Homo sapiens: one gene and its partner. The protein of the gene in region 1 purifies or fractionates together with the protein of each later gene. This does not show direct contact. Each region holds a gene or a part of one and is shown in the gene's direction. Other genes may lie near its edges. The genes, in order: MOGAT2 and CLCN3.

Region 1 (3,135 bases):
TAGTGCATTGCCTGACACATTGAAATCCAGCCACTGGCTGGGCGTGGTGGCTCACACTTGTAATCCCAGCACTTTGGGAGGTCGAGACGGGCAGATCACAAGGTCAGGAATTCAAGACCAGCCTGTCCAATGTGGTGAAACCCCATCTCTACTAAAAATACAAAAATTAGCTGGGCATGGTGGCGCATGCCTGTAATCCCAGCTACTCGGAAGGCTGAGGCAGGAGAATTGCTTGAACCAGGACGCAGGAGGCAGAGGTTGCAGTGAGCTGAGATTGCGCCACTGCACTCCAGCCTGGGCTACAGAGCGAGACTCTACCTCAAAAAAAAAAAAAAAGAAAAGAAAAGAAAAGGAAGAAAGAAATCCAGCCGTTGTTATTATATCAGAATCTTGGAGTTGCCCTAATATCTTAAAATTCATTAGGGTTGGAAGGAATGGAGTAAGAGCACTTTTCTGCAGGGATGAACCATGGGGGTGGGCACCTGCACCGAGGGTCCCTTGCCTACCCTAGGCCACTGCACACCTCTATGCCTTGCAGTGGGGAAGCCCATCGAGGTACAGAAGACGCTGCATCCCTCGGAGGAGGAGGTGAACCAGCTGCACCAGCGTTATATCAAAGAGCTGTGCAACCTCTTCGAGGCCCACAAACTTAAGTTCAACATCCCTGCTGACCAGCACTTGGAGTTCTGCTGAGCCCAAAGGGCAGGGCCAACATTAGGGAGCCCAGCAGGAGGTGCTGTGCTGAGAAGACTTCCTGGAGGTGTTTGTTGAACATATCTGCAGAGCCTTCCCAGACTCCTGCAAATCCAACCCATATCAGGCTGTAAGTCAGAGCAGGCAATGCAGAAGAGGAGACCAGACCAAGGGGTCAGCTGGGGCTAGGACAGTGAGGGCTGCTAGAGGGGCTGGGCCTCTCTTTGCACATGGACACTGGGCCCCTCTCTATATTGAGTGGTCTGTTAACATTCATTGGTGGCTGATTCCAAAAGATGAGAGCCAAAGCTGCACGGACTCGAGTCCTAGGCTGCACACCTCACAAGCATCTCTTCTACTGCATTCTGTTGGTCGAAGCAAGTCACAACCCAGCAGATTCAAGGAGTAAGGAATAGGATCCCCCTCTGGATGGGAGGAGCAGCAATGTCATATTACAAAAGGGTGTGGACACATGCAGGGATTCTTACTGCCGTCTTTGCAAACAATCCACCAAAACTTAAAAACTAAAAGCCTGAAGCACAAGCACTCTCCACCCCAGGCACACACACCCTGGAATTCCCTGTGTGACCATGGTACCACCACTGTGTGTCCCGAGGATCCCAGCTCAGCTTTGCATCGCTGCCCTATCTCCCTCTCGCTCTCCCCTGTTGATCCCTCATGCACAGCCACAGCGAGCTGTCTAAAACACAAAGCTGACCGCGCCATTTCCTACTCAGCATCCTTCCATGACCCTCCATTGCTCCTAGGATAGGGTTTGGACCAGTCTGAATCCAGAGGATCAGGATCCAGCAGGAACCAGAGGATAATTTGAGGAGGGTTTAAAAAGGAACCATTTTTTGAGGTGTGTGCACTGTTTCCACCCTGAGGCCTGGAAGGATGAATGGAAGCAGCAGTTCCTGAACCAGGAAGACTCATGTGTGGGGGCCATTGCTGGTCAAGGGGCACGAACAGGTCTGGTGACCCTGCAAGGGAGGAGCCAGGAGCAAGCATTCCCACTTCACCTTCCTCCATTCAGTCTGCTGCCAAGTTCCCCACTGCCTGAGCCCAACTAGAAGCTGGAGGGAAGGAGGGCCTGTGGCTGCAGTCCAGGCATGTAGGCCTCCTGGGAAAGGGAGAATGGCAAAGACAGGCAGAGTGGATCTGGAGGGGTCAACGGAAGACGGAACATGTCCACTTCCAGGCCCGAGCTTCTCAGCCTGCCGTTTGCCACTCTCCAGCATCTGGCCCAGCCTGTCCATCCTCATCTCTCTTCCTCCCTTACTCCGTGCTCCCATCACTCGGAACCATTTGCATTTCTTTGTCTCAGCTATATTGTCTCACCTCTGAGTTTTTGCCCATGATGTTGGATGCCATGGAATGCCATATCCTCCCCATTATCTCCCCCTTGTCTGGATAATTCCTACTCATCCTACAATACTGATTTTATCTGTGCAAAGAAGTCTTCCCCAGTGCCTCTGGTTGACAGGGGTTTCCTCTGGCTTCTCCAGACTTTCTGTTCCTCCACCACAGCCCTTAGCACCCTGGGGAGGAGGTGTTGCTGTCCAGGTAAATGCTGCGCCAATGCCCCTGCCTCTAGTGCACTCCCTCCAGCCTACCCACAAACAGGACCTGCATCCTGTCTCACAAATAAAACTGAACTCTTGAAATGGTGTCCAATGCCTCGGGATAATGCCTAAACTCCTCCTCAGCCTGGCATTCAAGGCCTTTATCATCTGCCCTCTAGACCCCACCAGCCTCACCTCTGGACCCTCTCCCCTTGCCACCTGTCACTCCCGCCCCCTTCGCTGCTCTCTGAATATACTCTGCTCTTGCACTGGCTTATTTAGGGGCGCACCGTTCCCTTCCTTCTGGAACACTCTTTCTTCTCAGTCTGGTCAGCGTCACTCACTTCCAAAGGTCGCCTCCTTTGTCAAACCTCATCCTACACTTCTACCCTCAAACTCTGCCCTTTGCCCTGAATCAGCCCTCTTTTGCACTGTCTTCAGGGATGAAAGGGTCATAGTCATTCATAGGCGAGTGTACTTCTCTGTCTCCCAGTGGACTGGGAACCCCCTTAGGCCCTTATCCATGGTGGCTTCAGCCCCATTCAACCCAGCTCCACCGCCAGCACAGGACCTCAGCATCCCCAGTGAGTGGGAGTTGGTTGAGTAAATGAATTCTCACATGTGTGCTTCCTCTCAATCCCACCCACATGAGGCCTGGGGCAGGGATAAGGGGAAGAAGACTCAGGCTTTGCCTCCGAGGTGATTAAATTAGTTCTGCATCACTGCATGACAGATCACTCCAAAATTTGGCTGCTTTAAACAACAAACCCTCATCGACTCTCGGTTTCCGGGGGTCAGGTGTCTGGGAATGGCTTAGTGGAGTGGTTCTGGCTCAGGGTTTCTCATGAGGTTGCAGCCAGGCTGGGGCTGGGGCGGG
Region 2 (3,827 bases), on another chromosome or scaffold:
AATACTTAATTTCACAGTAATTTAGTAATATGGCCCTGTTATCCTCATTTAGTGATTAGTAAACTAGGGCTGAAAACAGCTAACTAACTTGCCCGAGACTACATACCTAGTAAGTGGTGGAACGTAGGTTAAAATTCATTTTTCTTTGACTTCAAAGTCTGTGGTCTTACCTACTTACATTACTGCCCTTACGACTATGTGGGTATATATTTGTGTGTGTTCAAAACAAACTCAAAACCATCCTGTAGCGTAGCAAGTTAGTGGCTAAGATGAAGCTAGAGCATTTGCCTCCTCAATTCAATTCCATTACTTTCTGTTGTACCTTTATATTTTTTGGTAAGACTTTTACTTATTCTAAGTTCAAAAAATGTAATTTATTAGATGTTTGAGAAATTAAGTTTACCTAAATTTTAATGTTCATACTGTAGTGATTAGTTAATGTTTAATACGTTGTTATTCTGTCACCTTAGTGTATATATAAATGGCAAGAATTCACGGTTAGTTGAAAGCATTAAGGTCCCATAGTTTTGTGTAGACAAGAGGGGAGAGCGTTGATATTTTTAAATTAAATGCTTCTTAGATACGTATGAAATGGATTAAAACATGTATATGAGTTATAGATACCTAGGTGTTAGTTTGGTTGTAAATTCAGGATCAGGACATTCAAATAAATATGTTTGCTTTCCTCTTAGTGGAGGAAAAAAAAAAGAAGCTAAATTTGCTCCCTTTCCTCCCCAAATAAGCAGAGTCTACATTTTAATGCCAACAATTTGATTAAAACAAATATTTATTTACTTTTAATTCACCAAACTTTTATAAAGTATTTACTGGTGCCAGGCACTGTTCTAAAGCACTCTGTATATATTTACTCAGTCCTTAAGAGCTAAGTAATATTATCACGTTTCCATTTTAGAGAAAACTGAGGCACATATAGGTTAGGTTATCTACCCATAGCCATACAGCTAGTAAGTAGCAGAGCCATGATTTCAACACAGCAGCCTGACTATGGAGTTCATGATCTTAACCATTTACAGCTTAATTTTTATTATTTATAATTTCTCTTCTGGAAATGTAACAATTGACCATTTGAAGAAATACTTTAGGTAGCTTTGGATATTTGCTGTATTAAAGTAGTGAAAGTAATACAGACACTTGGCTGGGCGCGGTGGCTCACGCCTATAATCCCAGCATTTTGGTAGGTTGAGGCAGGCAGATCACCTAAGGTCAGGAATTCGAGACCAGTGTTGCCAACATGGTGAAACCCCGTCTCTACTAAAAATACAAAAATTAGCCGGGCGTGGTGGCAGGCGCCTGTAATCCCAGCTACTCGGGAGGCTGAGGCAGGAGAATCACTTGAACCCAGGAGGTGGAGGTTGCAGTGAGCTGAGACGACGCCATTGCACTCCAGCCTGAGAAACAAGAGAGAAACTCTGTCTCAAAAAAAATAAAGGAATACAGACTCTTAGAAAAATAATTACAAATAAAACCCTAGTGAAATTATAGGTATAGTTAGGTATAGTTGGCTTACAGGTGGGAAGTAGACCATTACCAACTGATAGACTGGGGAGCTGGAGAGAGGACACGGAAGAGTGTCCTTGGATTTTTCTTTTCCTTTAATTTTTTTGTAGAGGTGTTGGTTGGTGAGACTGTAACTTGAGGAGCTGTTGTGTGTGCTTTCAGAATGAGGCTCTCTAGATTGATAGTATTTTAGCAGTATTTCAGAATGCATAGGGTAGTGAAAATATAGGGAATCTTACAAGGTCTTCGGTTCCCTGCATATCTTGCTACGATTTGGAATAGAGTATTTATGGTGGAGCAGTTAGCTCTAAAATTTGAAGAAATGATATCCTATTTAAAAATAGCTCCCCATCCCAGTTACTGCCCTCCCCTCTTACCTACACAAACATACGTCTTGAAAATTGTCTATATTCATTGCCTCCTCCTCTTTACACCCTATTCACATTAGTATATCTGGCAAAAATTTTTTTTAACTGAATGGTAAATGCATGACTGACCTTTCAATTAAAGCCAGGAGAAAGAAACAAATCTTAATAGAAGAAATGAATAGTTACCCTTTGCTTAGGGAGCAAGGAAACATGCAAGTTAAATTCAGAAAATCCATTTGGAAAATTCAAGTAACATGAAGAATTTTTATTTGGTATGTTTGAATTTCTATGAAATTATGAAATAAGCCATATCCTCTTTCTAGGTGCTATCAGCTGCCTCAGCTGCAGGGGTTTCTGTAGCTTTTGGTGCACCAATTGGAGGAGTTCTTTTTAGCCTGGAAGAGGTAGGTGAAAAGAATACAACAATTAAAATTATATATAATTACCATTACAAATATATTTCACACATTTCAGTTTTGTAGGTGATGTAATAGGTAGAGACTTTGTTTTCAAATTTATTTTTCTAAAGTTGTTTTCCACTCATTCTTAATAAAAAGTAAATGTTATTCATGCTCCATACCTGGAGGAAACTTTTTAAAAATTTATTAATGTATGAATGTTAGTAATTATTTAAAATCTAACTTTGTTGACATATTTAAAAGTAAGAAGATGTGAATTTGACTTAATAGAGGACATGTGAAACAATCTATTTCCATTGGCTAAATTCTGTATTTTTAGTAGAGATGGAATTTCACCATGTTGGCCAGGCTGTTTTTTTGTGGGGTTTTTTTGTTTTGTTTTGTTTTGTTTTTGTTTTTGAGACGGAGTTTCACTCTTGTTGCCCAGGCTGGAGTGCAATGGCGCGATCTTGGCTCACTGCAACCTCCGCCTCCAGGGTTCAAGTGATTCTCCTGCCTCAGCCTCCCAAGTAGTTTTTGTTTAAAAAATTTTAATCAATTCCTATGTTGTGTTTTAAAGTTTTTCCCATGTGATTATTTCTGATACAGTTAGTGATGTTAAAGAAAATAATTTTAGTGACTTCAGTGGATTATTTTGTTTTTGTTTTCTTAATAGGTGTTTAAGACTTTTCTTTTTACATAAAAATGTAACCAGGAATTTTTTTTTAATTTTTTTTGACAAATAATAATTGTTTTTGTTTATGGGGTATAATGTGATGTGTCTATACATGTATACATTGCGGAATAATCAAATCAGAGTGATTAGCAAATCCCTCAAATATTTATTATGTCCTTGTGGTGGTGAGAACATTTAAAATCCTCTTTTAGCTATTTTGAAATATATAATACATATTATTAACTGTGGTCATCTTACTGTGCAATAGAACACCAGAACTTATTCCTCCTCTGTAAGTTCATACCCGTTGACTAATGTCTCCCCTTTCCCTGTTCACCTCCCCAACCCCTAGCCTCTGGTAACCCCTATTCTACTCTCTACTTCTATGAATTTAACTCTTTTAGTTCAAGATGTTTTTAAATGTACTTTTTTCTTTTAGTTGTTTGTATTCTTTTTTTTTTTTTAATGTAGAAGAGGCAAATTAAATGCATTATAAGTTAACAGGAGTTGGTGATGGTACATTTATTTTTAACTACCATGATTGAATTGAATGTGAAACTCATTTTGAATATAAAACAGCACTAGGTATTCTATTAGTATTTATTAGACATTTATGATCAATTGATACTGTCAATTTGTAATGATGATCACCATCTCCAAAAATAATAATAACATCAATTTTTCTTATTACAGTAAAATCCATTACATGTAAATTCTAACTACAGCAAAATTTAGAGCTAGGATATTTACCATTCAAGTTATAATATATCAGAAACATCTTATAAAATTATAGCATTAATTTTTCTTTTCCTTTTCTTTTTTTTAGGTTAGCTATTATTTTCCTCTCAAAACTTTATGGAGATCATT

What was found.
Region 2: the proteins of MOGAT2 (region 1) and CLCN3 purify together in Homo sapiens (affinity purification with mass spectrometry; one large-scale study listed by BioGRID and IntAct). This does not show direct contact.

The regions. Positions count from the first base shown.
Region 1 is NC_000011.10:75,730,594-75,733,728, forward strand, and holds the end of MOGAT2 (2-acylglycerol O-acyltransferase 2), read left to right. Parts: exon of another isoform or gene 1-109; intron 110-538; coding exon 539-693; 3' UTR 694-2,360; downstream 2,361-3,135.
Region 2 is NC_000004.12:169,693,403-169,697,229, forward strand, and holds part of CLCN3 (H(+)/Cl(-) exchange transporter 3), read left to right. Parts: intron 1-2,209; coding exon 2,210-2,290; intron 2,291-3,786; coding exon 3,787-3,827.